Linked DNA regions of Homo sapiens: region 1 is linked to region 2. The links come from fine-mapping of genetic effects on gene expression. A gene starts in region 2. The other region holds a variant in brackets. All regions are shown on one strand. Distances are from middle to middle. Region 1 overlaps SPG11 (SPG11 vesicle trafficking associated, spatacsin). Region 2 holds the start of CTDSPL2 (CTD small phosphatase like 2).

Region 1 (4,000 bases), 150 kb after region 2:
ACTGCTGAAGACCAACAACAGAAAAAAAAACATCGAGAGCAACCAGAGAAATAGGCACTGTTTATATAGATGAACAATGATTCAACTGACTGCAGATTTTTCATCAGACACCATGGAGGCGAAAAGGAAGTGAACAACATTTTCAAGCACTGAAAGAAAATAACTAATTTTCTTATTTATTTTTTGAGACAGGTTCTTACTTTGTTGCCCAGGCTGGAGTGCAGTGGCATGAACATGGCTCACTGCAGCCTTATCCTCCTGGGCTCAAGCGATCCTCGTGCCTTAGCCCCTCAAGTAGCTGGGACTACAGGCATGTGCCAACACACCTGGCTAATTTTTGTATTTTTTGTAGTGACGGGGTTTTGCCATGTTGCCCAGGCTGGTCTTGAACTCCTGAGCTCAACTGATCTGCCTGCCTCAGCCTCCCAAAGTGCTGGAATTACAGGTGTGAGCCACTGCACCTGGCCTGAAAATAACTAATTTTCTATATCCAGCAAAACATCCTTTAGGAATGAAAGTAAAATAGAGACATTCTCAGATGATGAAAAACTGATTATTAAAAAAAAAAAAAAGGCTGGGCGTGGTGGCTCACGCCTGTAATCCCAGCACTTTGGGAGGCCAAGGCGGGTTTATTAAAATATATTTTTTGGCTAAGAGCAAAAACCTCATTGTTTAATGAGGTTTTCAATGTATGCAGAAGTAATAAAAGACAAGTAGGATGTAAAGGGAGAAGAATAAAGTGACCTAAAATGGTGGTAAGATTCCTCCTACATTCCAGCTGAGGTGGTAAAATATTGATTCTAAGTATACTGTGGAAAGTTAAGGATGTACACTGTCATCTCTAAAAAAATAAAATTAAACTATACAAAGATGCAGAGTCAAAATCACAATAAATTAAAATGGAAGACTAAAAAATGTTCAAATAACCCAAAAAGCAGAAGAAAAAGTTTCCCTTGAAAATCACAAAATGCTAAAACTCACCCAAGATAAGAAAGATAACCTGAATAGTCCTGTAATTGTTTAAGAAATTGAATTTGTGGTTTAAAATCTTCCAAAATGGAAATCTCCAGTCTCAGATAGTTTTACTGGTAAATTCTACTAAGCATTTAAGGAAGAAATAACACCAGTTCTACACAATGTTTTCCAGAAAATAAAAGAGGAGGGAGTACTTTCTAACTCATGAAACCAACATTACCTTGATACAAAAACCAAACAGTATAAAAAAAGGCCGGGCACGGTGGCTCAAGCCGGTAATCACAGCACTTTGGGAGACCAAGATGGGCGGATCACTTGAGGTAAGGAGTTCAAGACCAGCCTGGCCAATATAGTGGAACCCCATCTCTACTAAAAATACAAAAAGTAGCCAAGCGTGGTGGTACACGCCTGTAATCCCAGCTATTCGGGAGGCTGAGGCAGGCGAATCACTTGAACCTGAAAGGCAGAGGTTGCAGTGATCTGAGGTTGTGCCACCACACTCTGGCCTGGGCGACAGAGGGAGACTCCATCTCAAAAACAAAAACAGTACAATAAAGAAAATTACAGAATAACATTCCTCATGAACATACATGTAAAAATCTTTAACAAAACAGCAAATTGATTCCAGCAAAAAATCAAAAAGAATAACGCACCAGGCCCAAATTGGATTTATGTAAATGGGGAATTCAAGGCTGGTCCAATATTAAAAAATCAACTAATGTAATCTACTATATTAATAGTCTAAC[GA/G]AAAAAAAAACCACATGATCAGATTAACAGATACAGCAATAACATGACAAAATTCAAACTGATTTATGATAAAAATTCTCAGCAAACCAGGAACAGAAGGGAACTTTTTCAACATGATAAAGCCTGTCTTCAAAAACCTACAGCTAATACCATACTTAAATGATGAAAGATCAAATAATTTCCCTTTAAGGTCAGTAAAAAGGTACAGATGTCCACTCTCGCCACCCCTATCCAACACAGTACTGAAAGGCCTAGTCAGTGCAATAAAGCAAGAACAAGAAATAAAAGGCATACAGATTGGAAAGGCAGAAATACAACTCTATTTGCAGATGACATGAATGTCTATGTAGAAAATCTTGAGGAATCTACAAGAAATCTCCTAGAATAAGCAAGTTTAACAAAGTCATATAAAGGTAACATAAAAAACAGATTTCTGGCCGGGTGCGGTGGCTCACGCCCTATAATCTCGGCACTTTGGGAGGCCGAGGTGGACGAATCGCCTGAGGTCAGGAGTTCGAGACCAGCCTGGCCAACATGGTGAAACCCGGTCTCTACTAATACAAAAATTAGCCAGTAATCCCAGCTACTTGGGAAGCTAAGGCAGGAGAATCACTTGAACCTGGGAGGCGGAGGTTGCAGTGAGCTGAGACCACACCATTGCACTCCAGCCTGGGCGACAAGAATGAAACACCATCTCAAAAAACAAAAAACAAAAAACCAAAAAGAAAAACAAAAAGCCATATTTCTATATACTATCAATGTAAGACTGGAAATGATTAAATTTACAGATGTATAGAATATGTAGAATAAATTTCAGTGAACTAGCTACAAATCAGATAGATTCCCTTTAACTTTGAAACATAGCTAGTTTAAAAGACATAGATCTTTCTATTTCATTGCCTAGTTAATTGGCTAGTCTACAGATTACCTGGAAAAAAGTTGTTGTCCCCTTAACTTGGTAGAACTATTCTGCCACAAGGGTCCCTTCCTTCTTGGAGACAGTGCTAACAGTGCCATTTAAGACTCTGGGCCATCTGATCTCCTTCACTTACTGCTGTGGACTCTCCTTAGGGGAATGTCGGGTGCTTCTTCCTCAAGCAGCTCAGCACTTTGTAGGAGAGCATGGATCTCTGGGTGCAGATCCTCCATACTAGCTTCCCCTGAGGCCAGTGCTCTGCAGTGCAATACCAAGGCGACATCTGGATTATAAAAATGAAAATACCGGCATACTCTACTTGCTTCATGCACACAGCCATCATCCAGTAGGCGCCCAATCAAAAAGTTTAGTGACTCCTGCTCTTTCCAATCCAATCTATTCTCGCATGTCTCTTTGGATGGAAGGCTGTTAAGTTCTAAGTATTTTGATGTGTTCAGAGCAGCCAACTTGGAGAAGGAAAACTCACTGGCTAAACTATCAAAGGAAAGTTCACCACTAGTTGAGATCTGTCGAGAAAATCTGGGCTCTGTTTCCTCCTGATTTCTTCCAAGAGTGTGCTGGGTGATGCGGCACAGCCAGATCTGCTTCTCCAGCTCCTCCAGCTTATCCAAGGGCACCACGTCCTCCTGGGCAAGCCAGTGCCCTGCCAAGGTGAGCAGCAGATGGCGCTCCTCCATGCTGCTCCATCCAGTTGGGTGCTCACATGCCACATGGGCCTGGGTTGAGAAAAAGGAAGAAGCTGCTTTGCTTGAAATTGAATTTTTCTTAAAATTCTCATGGCATTTTTTCCAGAAGTCAATTCTTGCTTGTTTTAGTGACCACTGTTCAATGTGTTTTAGGGTCTGCATTTCCTGTGTTATCTGTGAAATTTAACAAAGCAGATTTTAGCCTTTCTTGGATAAAAAAGTATCATAAATGCTAATGTTCCCTAAGTATATCATACTTGTTTGGACAGGGTCTCAGTCTGTCACCCAGGCTGGAGAGCAGTGGTGGCGATCACAGCACACTGCAGCCTCAACCTGCTGGACCCAAGAGATCCTCCCACCTCAGCCTCCCAGGTAGCTGGGACCACAGGTGTGTGCCATCATGCCTGGCTAATTTTTAATTTTTTGTAGAGACAGGGTCTCCCTATGTTGCCCAGGCTGGTCTTAAACTCCTGGGCTCAAGCAATCCTCCTGCCTTGCCCTCCCAAAGTGCTGGGATTATAGGCATGAGCCACTGCACCTGGCCTTATCATACTTGTTAAAACCAAATCAAATCAGAGAACAGAGATTTGGCTACAGATGACCCTAGATATTTTATCTGGAAAGTTATGGTATGAAAAACAATTCTTGATTGATC
Region 2 (4,525 bases):
TGTGTATACCACCAGCTCCCAATAAATGTCGCATTCAGAGCATTTTTGCACTAGGAAGATTTAGGGTGCAAATGAACTCTGACAGAAGAATCTGTAGTATACAAGGTTTTCAGAAGACAACCCACCTGCTCCATACTTCGAAATAATGAGATTCACAACGGTATGTTATTTCTGCTTACTTCTCAGCCTCTCTTGCCATCTTCCCCCTGCCCTCCCATCCTCTTTTCTTAGCGCACAGAACTACTTCTCCAATGGCTCAACACAGTCTCATCTTTGGACTTTTCCGTCTGTTGTTTCCTTTACCCAGACACTCTTCCCCTGCAACACACACTCCTCCTTTTTGTCTCAGATGTTATCTTACGAAACCTTCCCAGACCCCCTCGCCGGCACTCTCATGTGTTTTACAACGCCTATCATGCCATCCTTGTATTCGCTTTATCAGTTTTTAAATTCTGTTTACTTGGGTGTCTTCTTCAATAGATTATGATCTTTGGCCGGGCGCGGTGGCTCACGCCTGTAATACCAGCACTTTGGGAGGCCGAAGCGGGCGGATCACGAGGTCAGGAGTACGAGACCAGCCTGACCAACGTGGTGAAACCCCGTCTCTACTAAAAATACAAAAATTAGCCGGTCGTGGTGGCGCGCGCCTGTAATCCCAGCTTCTCGGGGGGCTGAGGCAGAAGAATCGCTTGAACCCGGGAGGTGGAGGTTTGAGCCGAGATCGCGCCACTGCACTCCATCCTGGGCGACAGAGTGAAGACTCCGTCTCGAAAAAAAAAAAAAATCATTACCTTTGGGGAAGGCAGTATCCGTGTCTGCCTGGCTCACTGTTTTACCCGTCGCACCTAGTTATTTTTTCAATAAATATTTCTTGATTGAATAAGGAGAGTGGCTTGGAGTTTCAGTGAAAAATGTTCTTCCAAACACTAGGCTTGGTTTTCCGATACCCCACTAGAACTGGATTCTCTGGACTGATACATTTTCACTCTGTGGAGCTGACCGTCCTTTGACCTAGGGTCGCAGGTGGGAGCCCACTGGCCTGAAAGATCCGAGTTTTCAACCTGCAGAATCACCGCCAACATAGGGTTGAGTCGAAGGGCATGAATATTTATGATCCAAAAGCGACTGCTACGCCCTCTAGGCAATGAGCTGGAAAGGGAACCTTCAAGGGCCACCGAAATCCCAGGAAAGGCGCCAGATTCGCTTTCTCCCGGCCTCAGGCAGCTCTCCCTACGAACTACCTCCTCCAGCGCGCCAAGCCGTTAGTCCCGCCTTATCCCCTCAGCTCCACCTACCCAGCGCGCCCACAGTTACTAAACCCTAGCCGCCAGGGTGCACTACGCGTTCCTAAGCCCCGCCTCCGGGGCAAGGGCGCGCTCCCCCTCCCAGCTCTGCCCAAGCAGTTCCGTTAGGAGCGGGAGGAAAAACCGTCCTTCGGGTCCCCGCCTCTCCACTCCTAACGCTTTACTCCCTACTCCCCCTGCGACCACTACACAGCCGGCTACGGAGGCCCCTAATGTACAAATATCCCCCAGGCCCTTGCTCATCCTGATAGGTTTTGTCCTTTCTTAATCGACCCAGTACTAAGGCCTTGTGTTCAGTTTTTCTCCAGGATTCAGACTAGAGAGTTTCTTCCGGCGTAAGGAACTTCAACGCTCTTCACGGAAGTAAAAGTGTTTTTTTGGTTGTTGTTGCCGTTGTGGCTGCCCGCATTCCTTCCCTCCCACCTCGCGGAATTGTGGCGGGAGGGGGAGGAGGAAGTCAGGGCGCCTGCGCGGAGAGGCCGCTTTCCATCCGGGTCCCTGTCCGTGCGGTGCAGCAGGTCGGTAGGCGGGAAATGGCGACTGGCTGAAGGAGCTGGTTCTGTTGCTGCTGCGGGGTAAGCGGGAAAGACACCACACATTGCGCAGTCGGGACCATCGCCGGAGCCTGAGGACACTTCTCTGTCGTCACAGTTAGGTAATCCCCTTCGTCCAGACGCCGCCGCTGCTTCCAATCTCAGTCCTCCTCCTCTTCCAGGGCCGTCTGCCGGGATCTCCTCCCCTTCTAAACCTGGTCCTCCAGCGGCTCTGGCGCCTTGGTAGGCATGCACTCTTTGGCGCCTCGTACGTCCACTGTGCGGAGCCGCTCCTGTCTGGACTTTCCCCTGGGAACAGAAAGGGAGCTCACTTCCCGCCAGCTTCACCTCTTAGGTTGCGGCCTGCGTTGTGATTTCTGGGGTTAGATTTCACTTTGCTACCCACCCCCACTCCGATCTCAAGTTCCTAGTCCCCAACCTCTGGGTAATTAAGTTAGAAGTTTAGCTTTTTTTAACCTTTTTGGCCCACCTCATGTTTTCAGCATTTCATTCTTTGGAGTAGGGTGCTTTTAGGGGGGCGTTGCTCTTATCTCAGTTCTTATAAACACCTTTTCAGAATCTGGAAGAAGGGATTTGACTAAGTTCTGTTTATCTTTTGTACTGTTAAAATCTCGAGTTGACATTGTTACTTTTTCAAATCGGGAGTGGTAGTAAAGAACAGTCCATGTGGAAGGCGTCTGGTTTCCACAGTGGTCAGTTAAAGAGTGAACCTTATTATCCTTAATATTCTCTGCTTTCTTTGGATTTTAAATGTCTGTATGGGTGTTTACTTTTGCATTCTTGACCAGAGTTCTGTGGTAAATAATTGCATAAGTAAATCTTGTTTATTTACTTCTCACCCTAGTGGTGGCTGGATGTGTGAATGATGTTAAACACTTCAGCGTACCTTAGGGAAACCTAAAGAGATCTAAGAGCTCGTAAACTTACCTGAGATCCTGAAATGAAACGTACTCAGTAGATGTTCCTCCGAGGCAGGGATTTATCTTCCTAATGCTGGTAACGCAGTACCAAGATGAATTTCTTCAGTGGGTATACAAATTAGTGACTTGAAATGATGGATTTATCTGTGTAATTTTCAAATTGTAGATTGCTTTGTCTCCCCATTCTTCGCCCAGTTTTAAATTTTCGTTCCTGGTCCATTTTTTATTCTTAGAAAAGGGAAATGGCGTGTTAAAGCTAGTTTTACTATATTTCTTTACTTTTTCTTTCCTTTTTTTTAAATTACATTGCAGACCAATTGTTCATAAAGAGAAGTAATAAGGAGGCTGTTGGTGTTTTCGGAATTTATTAATCATGTTGAATTTGGGATCTTTGTAGGTTTTTTTGTTTTCACTAATCAAATTAAAATTTTAAAAACTGTTCACATTGAATATCAGTTGATATTTATAACTCAGGTTTTCAGTTCTGGATAGGTCCAGTTTAGAGAATTTCACTATTGTTTGCACGATGTTATGGTTAATTTTCAATAATAAACAGGAACACACAAACATTATTATAATCCTCATTTGGTAGACTTTGCCCAAGGTCATAAAGAAAGTCAAGGCAAAAGGTAGCTCTTATGTGAAGGAGTTTTTTAGGATTAAGTTGAGCTTCATACTTTCCTAAGGCGAATAGAATAGTGGAGGTACAGGCACGTTAACTACTTGCCGAGTCAGTTTATTTAAAAAATGGAGCCAAATATGCAACTTAAAGGGATCTTAAATCATTGGTCTAGTGTGTAGGTTTTGTCTGTATTTTAATGACCTTTTTGGGTAGTTAATAGCGTTAATGTTTTTAATAAAAATTAGTTTGCAGCTAGCTGAGTGAGCATTGTAGACCTTGTTTTCAAGAGTTCTCCTAAATTGTTTAGTACTACGTGCATTCAGTACTTGCACTCTTTTAATGCTTTCTCAGAGTTGAAAGAACGTATAAGCTGGCTGGGTGGGGTGGCTCACGCCTGTAATCCCAGCACTTTGGGAGGCCAAGGCAGGCGGATCACAAGATCAGGAGTTCGAGAACAGCCTGGCCAACATAGTGAAACTCCATCTCTACTAAAAATACAAAAATTAGCCGGGCATGGTGGTGCACACCTGTAGTCCCAGCTACTCGGGAGGCTGAGACAGGAGAATCGCTTGAACCCAGGAGGCGGAGGCTGCAGTGAGCTGAAGACCACCCCACTGTACTCCAGCCTGGTGACAGAGCGAGACTCCGTCTCAAAAAAAAAGAATGTAAAAGCTATAAATGATGTAGTCCTTAACCTTTGTGGACTTGTAGCTATATAGAAAATCTAAATAGGATTGCATAGGAATGTCAGGGTTTGTATGTTTCACAAGATTCCATTCTACATAGTGTCTCTTGTGCATTTAACTTGAGCTGGTAATGTTACTGTTTTCCCACTGTTAAGAAATTAAGAATTGGGGAAGTCTTTTCTTTTCAGATTCATCTAGCTGATCTCAAGTTTGTGATTTCTGCTTAAGTGGTTTTTCATGAGATTATTATATAACAGAGTCCATCTAATTCTGGTTAAAGAAACTTGGACCTGTTGTTCACCAAGGATGTACTAGATTCTGGATTTGTAGCTATAGATTTTATTGTCAGTTGAGTAAAATGGCATTTATTTTTATTTTTATTTTTTAGAGATGGGGGTCTCTCTTTGTGGCCCAGGTTGGAGTGCAGTAGTGAACCCCT

The links. PIP is the estimated chance that this variant, and not a neighbour inherited with it, causes the effect. A credible set is the group of variants that fine-mapping cannot tell apart.
Region 1: its variant is the best candidate, but not a certain one, in a credible set for the expression of CTDSPL2 in whole blood (TOPMed, PIP 0.69).

What each region holds. Positions count from the first base shown.
Region 1 is chr15:44,581,040-44,585,039 of GRCh38, forward strand. SPG11 (SPG11 vesicle trafficking associated, spatacsin) reads right to left here. Exons shown (of 40, transcript NM_025137.4): 30 at 2,775-3,519. Among named protein-coding and RNA genes, the nearest start is that of EIF3J, 46 kb to the left of the region's middle. RefSeq lists silencers at 1,367-1,538, 3,356-3,405. The variant GA/G (reference allele first, on the strand shown) is at 1,722.
Region 2 is chr15:44,425,814-44,430,338 of GRCh38, forward strand. CTDSPL2 (CTD small phosphatase like 2) reads left to right here and starts at 1,816. Exons shown (of 13, transcript NM_016396.3): 1 at 1,816-1,959. It overlaps LOC124903479 (a long non-coding RNA gene), which reads left to right. Exons shown (of 3, transcript XR_007064605.1): 2 at 1-160; 3 at 481-504. RefSeq lists enhancers at 718-1,325, 980-1,209, 1,326-1,933, 1,490-1,869, 1,934-2,540.